Linked DNA regions of Homo sapiens: region 2 is linked to region 1. A link means that fine-mapping ties the variant in region 1 to the expression of a gene that starts in the linked region. Tissue or cell type: cerebellum. Region 1 holds a variant in brackets; the other region holds the start of a gene. All regions are shown on one strand. Distances are between the middles of the regions.

What was found. PIP is the estimated chance that this variant, and not a neighbour inherited with it, causes the effect.
Region 2: it holds the start of PLD5, and the variant in region 1 is fine-mapped to the expression of PLD5 in cerebellum (GTEx, PIP 0.98). The same link has a PIP of 0.9 or more in cerebellar hemisphere.

The regions. Positions count from the first base shown.
Region 1 is chr1:242,210,952-242,213,707 of GRCh38, reverse strand. All of the region lies in intron 5 of PLD5 (phospholipase D family member 5), which reads left to right. Among named protein-coding and RNA genes, the nearest start is that of MAP1LC3C, 210 kb to the right of the region's middle. RefSeq lists enhancers at 2,203-2,737, 2,738-2,756. The variant C/T (reference allele first, on the strand shown) is at 1,231.
Region 2 is chr1:242,523,105-242,525,732 of GRCh38, reverse strand. PLD5 (phospholipase D family member 5) reads left to right here and starts at 1,036. Exons shown (of 10, transcript NM_001372062.1): 1 at 1,036-1,645. The coding sequence starts at 1,457.

The sequences.
Region 1 (2,756 bases):
CTTTTTGCTGCGGGGGTTAACTCTCTGGGAGAATCCAGGACTGTATTGCCCTTTAAGATAGACAACAGGTTTTGCAGCTTATAAGTCGGAATGCCTAAAGTGGGGCAGAGCCAGTTGATATGCCTGGTAATTTCTGATAATATTTAAAGTGTGTAAGTTGCTAGTATTTAACCTTTTGAGGTCTTACTGACCGGGACGTTAGTATGTACCCAAGATATTTCCAAAGAGAGGACATTTGTGCTTTTTCAGGTGCAATAATTAAACCTTTTAGCTGTATTCTTTATGACAGAGGTATGTCGATTTAAAAGCATTAGTTCTGTTGGGGCTGCTAGTAAAATATCATCCATAAAATGAATAACCTTACAATCAGGAAATTCTTTTCTACTGGGGAGCAAAGCTTGATTTACATGATACTGACACATGGTAGGACTGTTTAGCATTCCTTGAGGAAGCACTTTCCAATGAAATCGACAAGCTGGCCTTTCATTATTGTAAACGCAAATTTTTTTCTGTCCTGTTCTGCTAGGGGAATCATATAAAAACAGTCTTTTAAGTCAATAACAATTATAGGCCAATTGTGAGGAATCACCACGGGGGAAGGGAGCCCCTGCTGAAGGGGTTTCATAGGTTGCAAATTGGCATTAATAGCATGTAAGTCATGCAAAAGTCTCCATTTACCAGACTTTTTGGGAATGACAAAAATGGGCGAATTCCAAGGACTATTTGATGGTTCTACATGTCCAGCTTTTAATTGCTCTTTATCTAATTCATGGGCTTTCTGTAATTTCTCTCCCTTCAAAGGCAACTGTTCTACCCAAATCAGATCTTGAAAGAGCCACGTCAGGGGTAGGAGAGAGATAACGGTGGCCATTATCAGAAAGAGGTTTTTTAAATTTTTAAATTTTACTCAAATCTTAGCATAGAATTACAATCTGGGATGTCGCTTGTACATAAGGAGCACACAAAATTTTGCCACAGGCCGGAGAGCTGGAGAGCTGAGCAGGCAGGCCCCAGGGCGGCAGCCACTTTGCACCTGCTTAGGCGCTGTGCTTTGTCTGTGCTGCTTCTTTCTGTACTGCTCCTTCCTCCACCCCGCTGCCTGGCGGCTGCTGCCTGCTGCACAAACCTTCCTGCATGTGCCTCCTGCCCATCCCCAGCAGGCTAGCTTCTGCATGCTGGGCCTGGCTCCTCATTGCGTTGCTACTATGCAGGTCGAGTTCCTGGGAGCAT[C/T]TGTTGGCTCCAGGTCTGCAAGCCTCCCTGCTGCTGAGCCTTTCCTTCTGCCCACCGCTCGCATGGTCGCGCAGCTCTGGTCTTTAATGTTTTTTCGTATTTTTAAATAAGCGTTAAAAGAAATGGGTTTATACATCTGATTGCCTTGTTGATCTTGCATTACTGGGCAGGCAAAGAGCTCCCCTTTTAATGCTGCTTGCTTAAGACAGGGTCTCTTCGCTGTAGCATATCCCCTGTCCTTTTTCCTATCTACTGGAGGAGGGGGCTTAGGCAAAACCTCCGTTTCCCCTTTTTTATTTTGGCCTGGTGATATCGGGGCTGAGGGAAGAGGAGGTGGTAAAGCAGGTGATGGTTCTTCCTCCTTCTCCTTTTTAGGCTCTTCTGTGTATAATGGAGCCAGGGCTGCCCTAACTAAGGCCCATAGCATTAAAGATGATACTGGGACCTTGCCCTTGCATGCAATGTTTAAGATTTCTCCCCACTTGTTCCAGAGCTTTACGTCTAGCATGCCTTCTTCAGGGAACCATGGGTTTTGGGATACAACAGTTTGCATTAGGTCCCTTAATTGAGCCTGCCAAACATAGGCTCCACTAGCTTTAAGCAGCTGTTTCAATACTTCTATATACTGTTTCTGTTAAGCTGATAACTGTTGTCCTGTGATGAAACCCTAGCCTGAATAATCCCCTGTGAACTTGGAAATCCTGAGCAGGCACCAATGACTTACTGACTGTGCAGTTCCTTTTTCACCTTCATTTTCGGGGGGTCCATCGTGATCCTTTTGTAGCGTTCCTCATGCAGGGCGCCACTTGTGGGGGTCTGTCCTACAGACCTCAGCTGCATGACGGATGAGACAGGTACTCAGACACTGATACTCAGTGAAAGAGCAGGCCAGGGGGCGGCCGGCACCAGCAGCCGAAGAGAGTTTTGCAGCTCCTCCAAGCTGGCAATGCTTGTATTTAGTTAGTACAGATTTAATTGACAAAGGCTTTGAGTCAACCACTGTGGGTAATTAACCTGGCTGCCCCCACCCTGGAGAGGGCCATCCTGCCCACAAATGATCAAAGGTTGGTCTTAGGACCACATGAGTAAACAAGCTATTTAGATAAAATACTTTACATTCCTTTGTATCTGCGTCCCAAGCTACTAACTCAAGGTAAGGATTAGGCTGCTTTTAGCCATAACCCTATCCTGAAACTTTTGCAAAACCTTCCGGCCTTCCAAGAAGGTTTGTGTGTATATCCTATAACTTCATCTTAAAATTTTTCCCACGAGCCTGACTGAACTCCCACAAAAGTCCTAGATGGCATCTTCTTCTAATAGAAGGTTGTTTTGTCTACATTGAAAATCTGTTGTTTAGTGTATCCAGCTTCATCGATGATCCCAGCTAGGTCTCCTGGATAACTACTGCAGCTTCTCTATCATCACTTTCTGCTTCACCTGGCACTTCTATGTTACAGAACGGTTTCGTACCTTAAACTTCATGAACCAACCTCAGCTAGCTTCCAATGTCTCTTTTGCAACTTTTT
Region 2 (2,628 bases), 310 kb before region 1:
GTTCTGCCGAGGGCTAGAGAGCCTTCAGTTTACCCTTGGCAACACCCTCTAAAATCCCCTGTATACCTCTCCAGCTTCCATACACTTCCCAAGCTTTTAACCAGACACGAGACACCCTGAACACCAGCTGTTTAGCATTTAGATAAAACCAAAAAATGTTTCGAGAGGTTGACTCCAAAGATAGCAAAAGATGAAGAGATTGAAGATTTAATCGCGAACAAGCCACCCTATTCCTAATAATCATCACGCTTGGCTGGGCCCCGAAGGAAAAGCCTGGACCCTAGGGGCCTAGAAACAGAGAAAAGAAACAAATGCACAGCAGTTGGGCCACGTCCACCTAAGGAACAGTCACCGCACAAGCGGAGCGTTGCAGAGGAGCCCTGGATCACCCTCCCAGGATCGGAATGGGTGCGGCCCGGGGAGCCCGGTTCTAGGTGGACACCGAGGGCTGGGGAGCAACCGGTCCCGCGTGCCTGCCCGAGGGGCTACTGCCCCCGGGCGTATTTGCATCGCCACACCATCGGATGAAAGTAGCGTGTACGGCTCCAGAAAACACATGTCTCTCGGCTATTTTCAGGGGGGAATGCTGGGCACCCTCTGCTCTAAGTCCCTTGGGGTGGGAAGTTAGTGAACTTTCAGAATGGGGGAAGGCGCAGCCCAAGCGAGCCGGGGGCAGGGTGAGGGGGCGCCGCTGGATAGAGATGGGGGAAGGGCGGAGGTGGTTTCCTGAGTGTCTCCCTCCGGAGCCATCCCCGCGCTCAGCCAGCAGGACCGAGGAGGCGCGGAGACGGCGCTCACTTCTCCCCTCGCCTGCCGGCTTTCCAGTAAAGATGCGCCAGGGAGAGGTGTAGCCTGCTCGGGAAAGGCGGGTGCGGAGCGGGAGCGCGGCCGCCCGGGCCTGGGCGCGGCGGGAGGGGCGGCGGCGGCTCCTCACTGCACCAACCTGCAGGCGCGGGCTGGCTGGGCCAGCCGCGGCCCCTCCCACCGCACCCCACCCCCGCCGCCGCCGCCGCCCCGGGAGCCGGCCCGGGTCCCAGTAGGTGCCGCAAGGAGCCGGCGAGCGGAGCGCCCGCTCGGGACCGCAGCCGCCGGGCGACGTCGCCGCCGCACCGGGCACTTCTGTCTCCCCGGAGCAGGTTCCTTTCCCTCCCTGTCCCCTCTCGTCCCCCTTCTCCCCGTCCGTCCCCCTCCGCCCCCGCCCCCGCCCCCGCCCGCACCTCGCCCTCCCTCCTTCCGCCCCGCGCCTCCCGCGATCGCCCCCTCCCGCCCGGCCGCGCTCCCAGCTGGCGCTCAGCACCCCGCGCTCCCCGCGCCCGCTCGCTCCTCCAGCTCCTCCAGCTCAGTCTCCAGCTCCACCTCCGGCTCCCGCTGGGCCTCCCGCTCGCCCTCCGCGCCCGGCTCCCCGCGCGCCCGTCCCGAGTCCGCTGCTCGCCGGCGGCCGCCCGGTCATGTCAGGATGGAGATCCGGCAGCACGAGTGGCTCTCGGCCTCCCCCCATGAGGGCTTCGAGCAGATGAGGCTCAAAAGCCGCCCCAAGGAGCCCTCCCCAAGCCTGACCCGAGTGGGCGCGAACTTCTACAGCAGCGTCAAGCAGCAGGACTACAGCGCCAGCGTCTGGCTTCGGAGGAAAGACAAGCTGGAGCACGTAAGGGCGACTCGCTCCCGGGGGCCTCGGCCAGGCACCTGCCGCATGCACCCTCCCCGTGGTGGTGGCATGAGCGCGCGCGGGGCGCGGGGGGCAGGCGAGGGGATCCTGGCAGGCGCCGACGTCCTAGGTCGGATTCGGGGGCTTCTCTGCCTGCAGTTTCTTGCCTTAATGACCGGGCTGCGGGGAGGGGAGGGCAGGTTCCCTTTCAGGCTCTTGGTCCCTGCCGACCCGACCTGCCCACCTGCGTCTCCCGGTAGGGTTCATTTGCACGGGGTTCTGGAGGTGCCTGTGCAGAGTGAGCACGAAGGGGAAGTGCCACCAGCGTGGCTCCGAGCAACCTGGCGTTGCATGGTAGTGGGCTTTAGAGCGGCGTTTGCCCGCGTCTTTGGGGGCTGTTTTACTCAGTCCAAAAACTAGCAAATTAACGAATGAGTAAAGTTGGCGCCGCTAGCGACCAGCGTGGACCCGCGCACAAGCCATTAGAGTTTTTTGCAGAGTGTCCGCTGGGATGAGCAGTTGGTGATCCTCTCTACTTGAGCCCAACTAGGGAGAGATTTGCGCGTTGCAAGGAGAAAGGCTAAAAGCGAGCGGATCGTCGGGCTCCCCAGAAATCCTCCCCTCTGGAGGGTGGGAGCCGGTGAGAGGGGACCTCTACTCCCAAGGAGTGCCGACTTCACGCGAAGTGAATTGGCTCTGGAGTTGAGCTCCTAAGGCTTGCTATTTTGAAAGAAAAAAAAAAAACCTTCTAAAAAGGCGTTTAGTGGATCCACAGTTTCAAATTTGATCCATCAGCATCTTCTTAAACCAAATGTTAAAATTAAACTAAGAGAATTATCTCAAGAGTGCAGCACAACTAGCTAAGGAGAAGATGCTATTTCTCCCTGCAGAGCTGCAGAATCCAAATTGAGTCTGCTAATGGAATGTGGAGGTTTCCTTGTATTTGGGTCAGGACGCCAACAATGATAAAAAAGATAAGACCA